Regions from separate parts of the Homo sapiens genome. Here region 1 is linked to region 2. Evidence: fine-mapped expression QTL. A gene starts in region 2. The other region holds a variant in brackets. All regions are shown on one strand. Distances are between the middles of the regions. Region 1 has its middle 85 kb from the start of EPAS1. Region 2 holds the start of EPAS1 (endothelial PAS domain protein 1).

The links. PIP is the estimated chance that this variant, and not a neighbour inherited with it, causes the effect. A credible set is the group of variants that fine-mapping cannot tell apart.
Region 1: its variant is the best candidate, but not a certain one, in a credible set for the expression of EPAS1 in neutrophils (BLUEPRINT, PIP 0.54).

What each region holds. Positions count from the first base shown.
Region 1 is chr2:46,210,024-46,215,404 of GRCh38, forward strand. No RefSeq gene overlaps it. Among named protein-coding and RNA genes, the nearest start is that of EPAS1, 85 kb to the right of the region's middle. The variant T/C (reference allele first, on the strand shown) is at 2,499.
Region 2 is chr2:46,295,089-46,300,469 of GRCh38, forward strand. It overlaps EPAS1 (endothelial PAS domain protein 1), which reads left to right and starts at 2,319. Exons shown (of 16, transcript NM_001430.5): 1 at 2,319-2,849. The coding sequence starts at 2,824. RefSeq lists silencers at 1,773-2,352, 2,583-2,912.

The DNA.
Region 1 (5,381 bases), 85 kb before region 2:
GCTACTGATTTTTGTACATTGATTTTGTGTCTGGAAACTTTATTGAAGTCATTTATCAGTTCCAGGAGCCTTTTGGCAAGGGTTTTCCAGGTATAGAATGATATCAGTGAAGAGAGATAGCTTGACTTATTTTCCTATTTGGATACCTTTCATTTGTTTCTCTTGTTTTATTGCTCTGGTAAGAACGTCCCATACTATGTTGAATAGGAGTGGTAAGAATGGACTTCCTTGTTTTGTTTCAGTGTTCAAGGGAAATGCTTTCAGATTTTGCTCATTTGGTATGATGTTGGCTGTGAGTTTGTCATAGATGGCTCTTATCATTTTGAGGTATGTTCCTTTAATACCTAGTTTCTTGGGGATTTTTATTATAAAAGGATGTTGGATTTTATTAAAAACTTTTTATGTGTCTATTGAGATGATCATATGGTTTTTGTTTTTAATTCTGCTTATGTGATGAATCACATTTATTACTTTGCATATGTTGAACAAACCTTGCATCCCAGGAATGAAGCCTACTTGACCATGGTGAATTAACTTTTCCGTATACTGTTGGATTCAGTTTACTAGTACTAAAATACTTATTTAAAGGGTTGATGTAGCTCAGAAAACAAACAGAAACAAGAAGTATTTGGGAGGGAAAAGAAAACCTCACAAACGCAACAAATACTATTCTTAATATCCTTAAGAGAGAAGACATTTTTCAATTTTAAAACAAAAAAAAAGTATGTTTTATTTAAAGAGAGTAAGGAATATTTGAAGAACAACAACAACAACAACAAGAATTTCAGAAATATTTTTTAATGGTAGTAGGAAAAAAGGCCCAATAGAATGTTTGGAAAATTCTTGACCATTATTTCTTTAAATATTGCTTCTTTTCCCATTCTAACTTTCCCTTCTTCTTCTAGGACTCCAATGATATGTATGTTGGATATTTGTTACTGTGTCTCATATCTCTTTTATGCTCCTTTCTGATTTTTTCCCATTTCTTTTCTTTCTGTGTTTCAGTTTAGATATTTTTTTCTTGTGTGTTTTTTTTTTGTTTTTTTTAATTGAGACAGAGTTTTGCTCTTGTTGCCCAGGCTGGAGTGCAGTGGTGCGGTCTCGGCTCACTGCAACCTCCGCCTCCTAGGTTCAAGTAACTCTTCTGCCTTAGCCTCCCAAGTAGCTGGGATTACAGGCATGTGCCACCACACCCAGCTAATTTTATATTTTTAGTAGAGACAGGGTTCCTCCATGTTGGTCAGGCTGGTCTCAAACTCCTGACCGCAGGTGATCCGCCTGCCTCAGCCTCCCAAAGTGCTGGGATTACAGGCATGAGCCACCTCACCTGGCCTAGATTTTTTTTTTTAATCTCTCCTTTAGTTCTCTAAATCTGTCTTCTCTGTGTCTAGTCTATTGTCCAACTTAAGAATAAAAAATATTCCTATTTTCTTAAGGTAAGAATACACTCTCTAGCAATAACCAATCACCAAAAGTGGTTTTATATTCATTATTCATGCTAATTGACTGATTATAACTTGTTTTAGTAACTATGCTTCTGAATGCCAGCAAATCAGCAACAACCTTCATTTGAGAATCTATGCTGCTATAGCTAATGATCAGCCATTTCCTGAATACATTTACTTCTGAAACTCTGCCAATCCTGAACTCTACCCTTCCTCAAACTCTATACAAGAACAGCTGTAAGCTCTACTCAGAGATAATGTGTCTTATAATAATAGCACAATACATTCAGCTTTTTATCATATAGTAAATGATGATCTCTTACTTTGACGATCTAATCCAATGAGTTCTTCTTTTTTTTTTTTTTTTTTAGAGTCTCATTCTGTCACTCTGTCACCCAGGCTGGAGTTCAGTGGCACAATCTCAGCTCACTGCAACTTCCACCTCTCAGATACAAGCGATTCTTCTGCCTCAGCCTCCTGAGTAGCTGGGTTCTTTATTTTGTTCCATTGGTCTAAGTGTCTGTTTTTATACCAGACCATGCTATTTTTGTTACCATGGTTCTGTAGTATAATTTGAAGTCAGGTAATGTGATTCCTTCAGTTTGGTTCTTTTTGCTCAGGATACCTTTGGCTATTCTGGGTCTTTTGTGATTCCATATAAATTTTAGTATTGTATTGTTCTATTTCTGTGAAAGATGTCATTGGTATTTTGATAGGGATTGCATTGGTTCTGTAGACTGCTTTGGATAGTATGGATATTCAAACAATATTAATTATTTCAATCTATGAACATGGAATTCTTTTTCACTTTTTGGTGTCCCCTTCAATTTCTTTCATCAGTGTTCTATAGTTTCCATTGTAGATTTCTTTTACTTCTTCAGTTAAGATAATTCCTAGGTATTTAATTTTATGTGAGGCTATTGTAAATGAGATTACTTTTTAAATTTATTTTTCACACCGTTCACTACTGGCATTTCAAAATGGTTTTTGTATGTTGATTTTGTACCTGCACCTTTACTGAATTTGTTTATCAGTTCTAGTAGTTTTCCTGCA[T/C]AGTCTTTAGGTTTTTCCAAATATAAGATTATGTCATCTGCCAACAAAGATAATTTGACTTCTTCCTTTCCAATTTGGATGTCCTTTCTTTTTTTTTTTTTTTTTTTTTTTTTTTTTTTTTTTTTTGTCTGATTGCTCTAGCTATGACTTCTAGTATTACGCTGAATAATAGTGGTAACAGTGGGAATCTTTGTTTCATTCCTGATCTTAGAGGAAAAGCTTTCAGTTTTTCCCCATTCAGTGTAATACTAGGTGTGGGTCTGTTGAATATGGCTTTTATTATGTTGAGGTATATTCCTTCTATCTCCATTTTTTGAGGGTTTTTTTCATGAAGCGATGTTGAATTTTATCAAATGCTTTTCAGCATCAATTGAAATGATTATATGGTTTTCATCTTCATTTTGTTGATATAATGTATCACATTGATTGATTTGCATATGTTGGACTATCCTGAATCTCAGGGATAAATCCCACTTGGTCATACTGAAAGATCTTTCTAATGTATTGTTGAATTTCATTTGCTAGTATTTTGTTGAAGATTTTTGCATCAATATTCATTAGAGATGTAGACCTGTGTGTGTTGTTTTTTTTTTTTTTTTAATGTGTCTTTGTCTGGTTTTTGTGTCAAGGTAAATACTGGCCTCATAGAATGAGTTTGAAACTATGTACTCCTCCTCTATTTTTGGAATAGTTTGAGTAGGATTGGTATTAATTCTCTTTAAATGTTTGGTAGAATTCAGCAGTGAAGCCATCAGGTCCTGGGCTTTTCTTTAGTTGGAAACTTTTTATTATGGTTTCAATCTTGTTACTAGTTATTGGTCTGTTCAGGTTTTGGACTTCTTTCCAGTTCAATCTTGGTAGGTTGTATGTATCTAGGAATTTGTCCGTTGATTATAGATTTCTAATTTATTGGCATATAGTTGCTCATATTAGCCACTAATGATCCTTTGAATTTCTGCAGTTTCAGTTGTAATGTCTCCTTTTTCATTTCTGATTTTCTTTATTTGAATCTTGTGTCTTTTATTCTTAGTCTGGGTAAAGATTTTTCACTTTTGCTTAACTTTTCAAACAATGAACTTTTTGTTTCATTGATCTTTTGTATCATTTCTTTCATTTCAATTTCATTTATTTCTGCTCTATTCTTTGTATTTCTTTTCTTCTTCTAATTTACATTTGGTTTGCTCTTGCTTTTCTAGTTATTTAAGAGGCATCATTAAATTGTTCACTTGAAGTTTTTTTCTCTTTTTTAATGTAGATACTAATAACTATAAACTTCCCTCTTAGTAGTGCTTTTGTTTTATCCCATGGATTTTGGTACACTGTGTTTTCATTATCATTTGCTTCAATAAATTTTTCAATTTCCTTCTTAATTCCTTTATTGACCCACTCAGGAGCATATTGTTTACTTTCTATGTATTAAAATCATTTCCAAAATTCCTCTTGTTGTTAATTTCTAGTTTTATTCCATTGTGGTCAGAGAAGATGCTTGATATAATTTTAGTTTTTTGAATGTTTTAAGACATGTTTTATGACCTAGCATATGGTCTATCCTTGAGAATGATCCACGAGCTGTGTAAAAGAATGTGTATTCTGCAACTCTTGGGTGAAATGTTCCATAACTATCTATTAGATCCATCTGGTCTATCGTGCAGATTAAGTCTGATGTTTCTTTGTTAATTTTCTGTCTGGAACATCTGTTCAGTGCTGAAAGTGGGGTGGTAAAGTCTCCAGCTATTACTGTATTGGGGCCTATCTCTCTCTAAATAATATTTATCTCTCTCTAATAATATTTCCTTTATCTGTCTGTGTGCTCCAGTGCTGGGTGCATATATTTATATTTAAAATTGTTATATTCTCTTGCTAAATTGACCTGTTTATTATTTTATAGTGACCTTATTTGTTTCTTCTTATAGTTTTTGTCTTGAAATTTATTTTTTTCTGATATAAGTATGGCAATTCTTGCTTTTTTTGGCTTCCATTAGCATGGAATATTTTTTTCCATCTCTTTATTTTCAGTCTATATGTGTCTTCATAGGTGAAGTGTGTTTCTTGTAGGCAACAGATCAATGGGTCTTATTTTTTCATCCATTCAGCCAGTCCATATCTTTTAATTGGAGAGTTTAGTCCATTGACAGTCAATATTATTATTGATAAGTAGGACTTCCTCCTCCCATTTTGTTATTTGTTTTCTGATTATTTTTTGGTCTTCTCATCCTTCTTTCTTTTCTCCCTGTCTTCCTCTAGGGAAGGTGATTTTATCTGGTAATATAATTTAGTTTCTTGCTTTTGTGTGTGTGTGTGTGTGTGTGTGTGTGTGTGTGTGTGTGTGTGTGTATCCATTGTATGATTTTTGGTTTGTGTTTACCATGAGACTTGCAAATACTATCTTATAACTCATTATTTTAACCTGATAACAACTTAACACTATTTGCATAAACAAACAAGCAAGCAAATAGAAACTCTCCTTAACTTTGTCCCCCTGCTTTTTAACTTTTTGTTGTTTCTATTTATATTTATTGTACTGTGTCTTGGAAAGTTGTTGTAAATATTTTTGATTGGTTAATCATTTAGTCTTTCTACTTAAGAGTAGTTTACACACCATAGTTACAATGTTATAATATTCTGTGTTTTTCTGTGTACTCACCAGTGAGTTTTATACCTCCAGGTGATTATTTATTGTTTATTAATGCCCTTTTCTTTCTGATTGAAGTACTCCCTTTAGCATTTCTTGTAGGACAGGCCTGGCATTGATGAAATCCCTCAGCTTTTGTTTGGGGAAGTCTTTATTTCTCCTTTATGTTTAAAGGATATTTTTGCTGGATATACTATTCTAGAGTAAAAGGTTTTTCTTTTTCCCTCTAACACTTTAAATATGTCACTCTC
Region 2 (5,381 bases):
CTCAGGGGTACATGTGCAGGATGTGCAGGTTTGTTACATAGGTAAATGTGTACCATGGTGGTCCACTGCACAGATCATCCCATCACCTAGGTATTAAGCCCAGCATCCGTTAGCTATTGTTCCTGATGCTCTCCCTCCTCCCACCCCTCACCCTCTGACACGCCCCAGTCTGTGCTGTTCCTCCCATGTGTCCATGTCTTCTTAGGTTGATGTGGTCTTGAGTGACCCCTCCTTGCCTTTCCTCTTTAAAAACAAGATCTAAAAGGCTATGTTCTCTATGGGTTGGAGGTGTTGCCTCGATCTGTCAAGCACAGTCCAGGACTCAGAGGCTGTTGTGGTGAACTACTGTAGGCACCTGGAAGCCACCAAGGTGCCCTTTTCCCGCACTCTAGTCCCAAGTGAGGGAAATAAGCCTATGGTTAAGGGAGAACTATCTACCAATTTGAACTCATTAAAATACATAAATGTGTCCACTAGAAATGGCTGGCTGGAGAAGCCCAGTACCAAATCACCCCGTTCCTGAAACCCACCAGCCCCATGAAATAGTTCGCTAGAGAGAGATTTGCAATCTTTGAATTCGTTGACTATCAACCTGTATAGGTGCTCCGTGCCCCGAGATCTGAGAAAATGACAAAATACGTCTACTTCCCGGCCGGGCACAGTGACTCACGCCTGTAATCCCAATACTTTGAGAGGCCAAGTTGGGCAGATCACTTGAGGTCAGGAGTTTGAGACCAGCCTGGCCAACATGGTAAAACTCCCGTCTCTACTAAAAATACAAAAATTAGCTGAGGGTGGTGGTGGGCGCCTTTAATTCCAGTTACTCCGGAGGCTGAGCCACAAGAATCGCGGGAAGCGGAGGTTGCAGTGAGTCGAGATGGGGCCACAGCACTCCAGCCTGGGCGACAGAGTGGGACTCAGTCTCAAAAAAAAAAAAAAAGTATTTCCCAATTCTTCGTCAGTTTTTGCCCTCTCCCCACTTCGCCTTCTCCAGGCTCCTGAAAAGTATCTCCCCCAACCCTTTCTGTGTACACGGGGAAAACACGTGTTCATTTTTATTATGGCGCTGAAACCTACCCTTCTCTTCAAATCGCTTCTGTAGATCGTTCTAGTATAAAATGTGGCAAGAGGCTAAAGGGAGAGATATAGACCAGTTCTTTGGCCCTCGCTTTCCAACTTCAAGTTACACCTGTGAAACTCATGGGTCCTTCCACAGCCTTCAAAAACTAAGGGCGTCCCCTGTCCTCTCCCCAGATGTCCCTTCCCCATCGCCGGTAGCGAGTGGGAGACAGCTCAGCGCGGGGCAGGGGAGCACTGGGCCCGGAGATGGAAGGCAGCGTCAAAAGCGCCGCTGGAAAATCCCTGAGCGCTAACCGTTGCCTGTGTGAGCCCTTAAATCTACAAATTTCCAACACCTGTAGCCTTTGGGTTTCCCAGGACTTCCATCGACCCTGGCGGCAGAGAGGGCAGGCCTGAGATGCAGTGACTTGAGGGCACATGGCCAACTCTTGTCACTCCAAGATCACACTGGGGAACCAGACTGACTTCTCCAATTCTGAACTCGCCCCGGCCTCGGGCGGCTCAAAGGGCCTCCTCTGCCGCATCCCCGCCAAAACCAAACCGCCTGGCACAAGCCGGTAAGCAACCACCCTGCTGGGAGAGGGAAGGAAGAGTAGGCGCAGCCCTAGATCAATTTCCTTGCACTGCTTCTCCCAGACGGTCAAGTCAGCTGCGTCCCACCGAAAAGGGCGCATCGCCCACGCCCGAAACGCAGCCGCTGGGGGCCGAGAAATTATCCCCACCTGGCCCGAGGGCCAGGGACGCAGGAGCGCAGCAGCGTGGAGGGGCTCCGCGCTGGCCCGGCGCTGCCCGCGGTCCTGCCCTCGTTCCAAGGGCACGGCGCCGGTACGAGGACACCGACGCTGTGGCGCAACTGCCGTCCCCCGCAGCAATCCCGGAGCCCGGCTCCCGGCCGCCCCTCGGCCCTGCGCAGGCTGCCTCTCCCCGACGCGGAGTCCCACCCCGCTACCCGCCGCCCAGACGACCTCATAAACAAGTCCTCGAAGTGCGGAGGCAGGAGGCGGGGCGCAGCGCGGGGGCAGGAGGCGGGCCAGGGTCAGGGCAGAGGCTGCGGCCGCGCGTCCCCATTGGCCGGGACGCAGTGAGCCGCCCGGAGCTCGGCGCGGGCGGGGCCTGCCGGCGCGTGCCCGCCCACACACCCGCGCCGGTGCCCGCCCCCCGCCCTCCGCGCCCGCCCCGTGCCCGCCCCAAGCCGGCCGACGGAGTTTTTAAAGTGGGCTGCCGGCCGCGGGAGCTTTACACTCGCGAGCGGACCGCCACACGGGTCCGGTGCCCGCTGCGCTTCCGCCCCAGCGCTCCTGAGGCGGCCGTACAATCCTCGGCAGTGTCCTGAGACTGTATGGTCAGCTCAGCCCGGCCTCCGACTCCTTCCGACTCCCAGCATTCGAGCCACTTTTTTTTTTCTTTGAAAACTCAGAAAAGTGACTCCTTTTCCAGGGAAAAAGGAACTTGGGTTCCCTTCTCTCCGTCCTCTTTTCGGGTCTGACAGCCTCCACCCACTCCTTCCCCGGACCCCGCCTCCGCGCGCAGGTTCCTCCCAGTCACCTTTCTCCACCCCCGCCCCCGCACCTAGCCCGCCGCGCGCCACCTTCCACCTGACTGCGCGGGGCGCTCGGGACCTGCGCGCACCTCGGACCTTCACCACCCGCCCGGGCCGCGGGGAGCGGACGAGGGCCACAGCCCCCCACCCGCCAGGGAGCCCAGGTGCTCGGCGTCTGAACGTCTCAAAGGGCCACAGCGACAATGACAGCTGACAAGGAGAAGAAAAGGTAAGCGGGCGTCCGGGCCGATCAGGGGGCCGGTCCGAGGCCAGGGCCGGGCTGCGCGGGGCAGGCGCGACCGAGAGTGGTTGGGAGAAGAGTGCTGAGAGGTCTTCGGAGCTCGAGGCTCGGTTTGGAGGGCTGTGAGGGGGAGAGCATGTGCCCGGTTTGGGGGCGCGGATCAGCAGCTTTGCAGTGGAGACTTCTGCGGCTCGGAGGAGTCGGGGATTTGCGCGCACGGCGAGGCCAGGAGGCCGAGGGAGATGGCCTGGAGGTCGGAGGTGCTTCCGCGGTGCCTTTGAAAATCTCCCAGCCGCCCCGCAGCAGATTACCGTGGCCACCGGCGCTTGGAAATGTTTGTGGGTGCATGTCCTCGACTTTCTCTGGTCTCTCATTTTGGGGCAGCATCCACGTCTCTATTTTTCTCTGGATTCGCGGAGTCCTTCCAAATGCGCTCCTGTGCCCGCGCCGCGGCCCAAGTGGGCAAAGGGGGGCGGGAGGCGGAGAGCGGCTCAGGGACACGATCCTACCGAGGAGCCAGGACCCTTCAGAGCGCCCCGCTGCCGGGCTCCAGACCCCACCGAAGGTTGGAGAACCCACTTCCTCGTGCCGCACCTTGACTCTGGGGAGAGTAGGTAGTGAGTGACCTGGATTGCCCTGCGGGGGCAGATGGTTCGGTGTGTAGGAAGCGGACGGCAACACTGGATGTCCCTGGCAGGTCCGGGTGTCTGTCTCCGAAGAGGACAGAGAAGGGCAGCCACGATCTGCCCGCCTGCCCTCGCGAGCCTCTCGGCACTGGGTGAGAGGCAACTCTGGCCATTTCTTGCTGCCCTCTCGCCCTCTCCCGGCCGCTCCCAGTCCAGCCGGGCCCGGCGCTACCCGAGCGAGGGTTCGAGCCCTCTGCGCGGCCGCGCAGAAGCAGGCAGGGCCTCAACTTCTGCAAATGTGTGCGGCTCGCCGCCTGTCCCCTTTCTCCTCCTGTCTCCACCCGTGCGGCCCCAGTGGCCTGGAGCTTCCAGCCCCGCGCTTGGCCGCGGCTTGGCGAGGCTATGCTGCGGGAAGCTGGAATCCAACGCGCGGCCGGCTGAACCGCCTGAGCCGCGGGAAACCAGCGGCGGAGCGGCGGTATAGAGGTGCGAGGATGAGGAGGACCGACTCGCTAAGGGAGGGAGGTGACTGGCCGGGAGGGCTCACTGCCGAGGTTGATTTGCTCTTGTTCCAACTTCCACTACGGGACTGGAGCCAGAAACCGTGTATCCTCCGGTCGAAAGCAGCGGTTCCCACCTCGGGGCACCGATAAGGATTTGATAAACGGGAGCGAATCGCGCCTGTCCTGGCTCGGCGCCCGGGCCCTTCACTGCGGGATCGCTAGGGGAGGGGATTGGGCCCTGCTCCCCTTTCCTGGCCGTAGTCCCCCCTTTCTCGTCACCGTCGCGCCCTCAGACCCAAGACAAGTGAGGGAGCCCTGAGACTGCAGCCGGCACATTCCCAGGGCCCTCGGAGCAGTCCTGGGGTTCCATGTCTTTTGAAGGCAGCAGAGCAAGGAAAAGACTCTTAAGATTCCAGTGCGTTTTGTAAAAACCAATCATAATGCTAATAATGACTGAACCATCGAAAAGCAAAGTTATAGACAGCGCCTGCAGACGCTTTCGGGTCCGGAGCCGGGGAGGGAACTTGTGTATTTTACAACTGCGATGCCTATCGGGAATGTGGCAATCGCCGAGGTGGGGCCTGACAGTAATCTTGACAAATGTGTGAAGTGTCAGCTCCTCCTGCGCTCCTTAGCGCCGGGTTTTGTGCAGTTTTGTACCGTATATACCGAGAAACTTGGGAGCAGGGGAAAAATGATTTCGACACACCCAGCTACAGTACCTGGTTCGTTAGCGGACTGTTGGAAAGAGAGAAGAAGCGGGAATGGGAGCGGGAAGAACGTTGCGTAATTAGACTCCCAATTATTGGCGAGAGCGGCCGCTTTAAGAACCACTGTGGGGACTGCCTGCGAAACGCCTTGGAGGCCGCTGTGTGAGCTGCGGCTCCGGGCTGGTGGCCACGCGAGGGTGTCCGCCCTCTTCGACCTGCCTGGATTTTTGTGCTGCAGAATGGCAGGGCAAACAGCGTGTCCTTCACCATCTAGAGCCCCTTAAGGGGTTGTCCAATTCCTATTGGGCTAATCAGTTTGAGACTCATTTACTTTTCGTGCCTGGGTCTGTTTGCTGGCTGCAGGCTTCTTTAGGGACCAAGATGTAATTAAAATATGTGAACCAATACATTGAAAGTTGGTGTTGTCATGTAAGTGACTGCTGTAGCTTTTCTGAGTGCCTCACAAGGGCGATGTGACAGTGAGGGGGCTCTCTGCTGATGATTCTGCCCACTAGTTCTTACATTTTGTGTTTCTTTGGTTTAGCAGAGCAGTTTCTTCCCCCAAATGCAATATGGGCAGAACATTTGGAATATTCGTTCTAACAATGGCCCGTCAAGAAGTGGGCAGATGATTTTGTCCCAGAATGTTCACACGTCGATAAATATGTTAATGTTTAATAA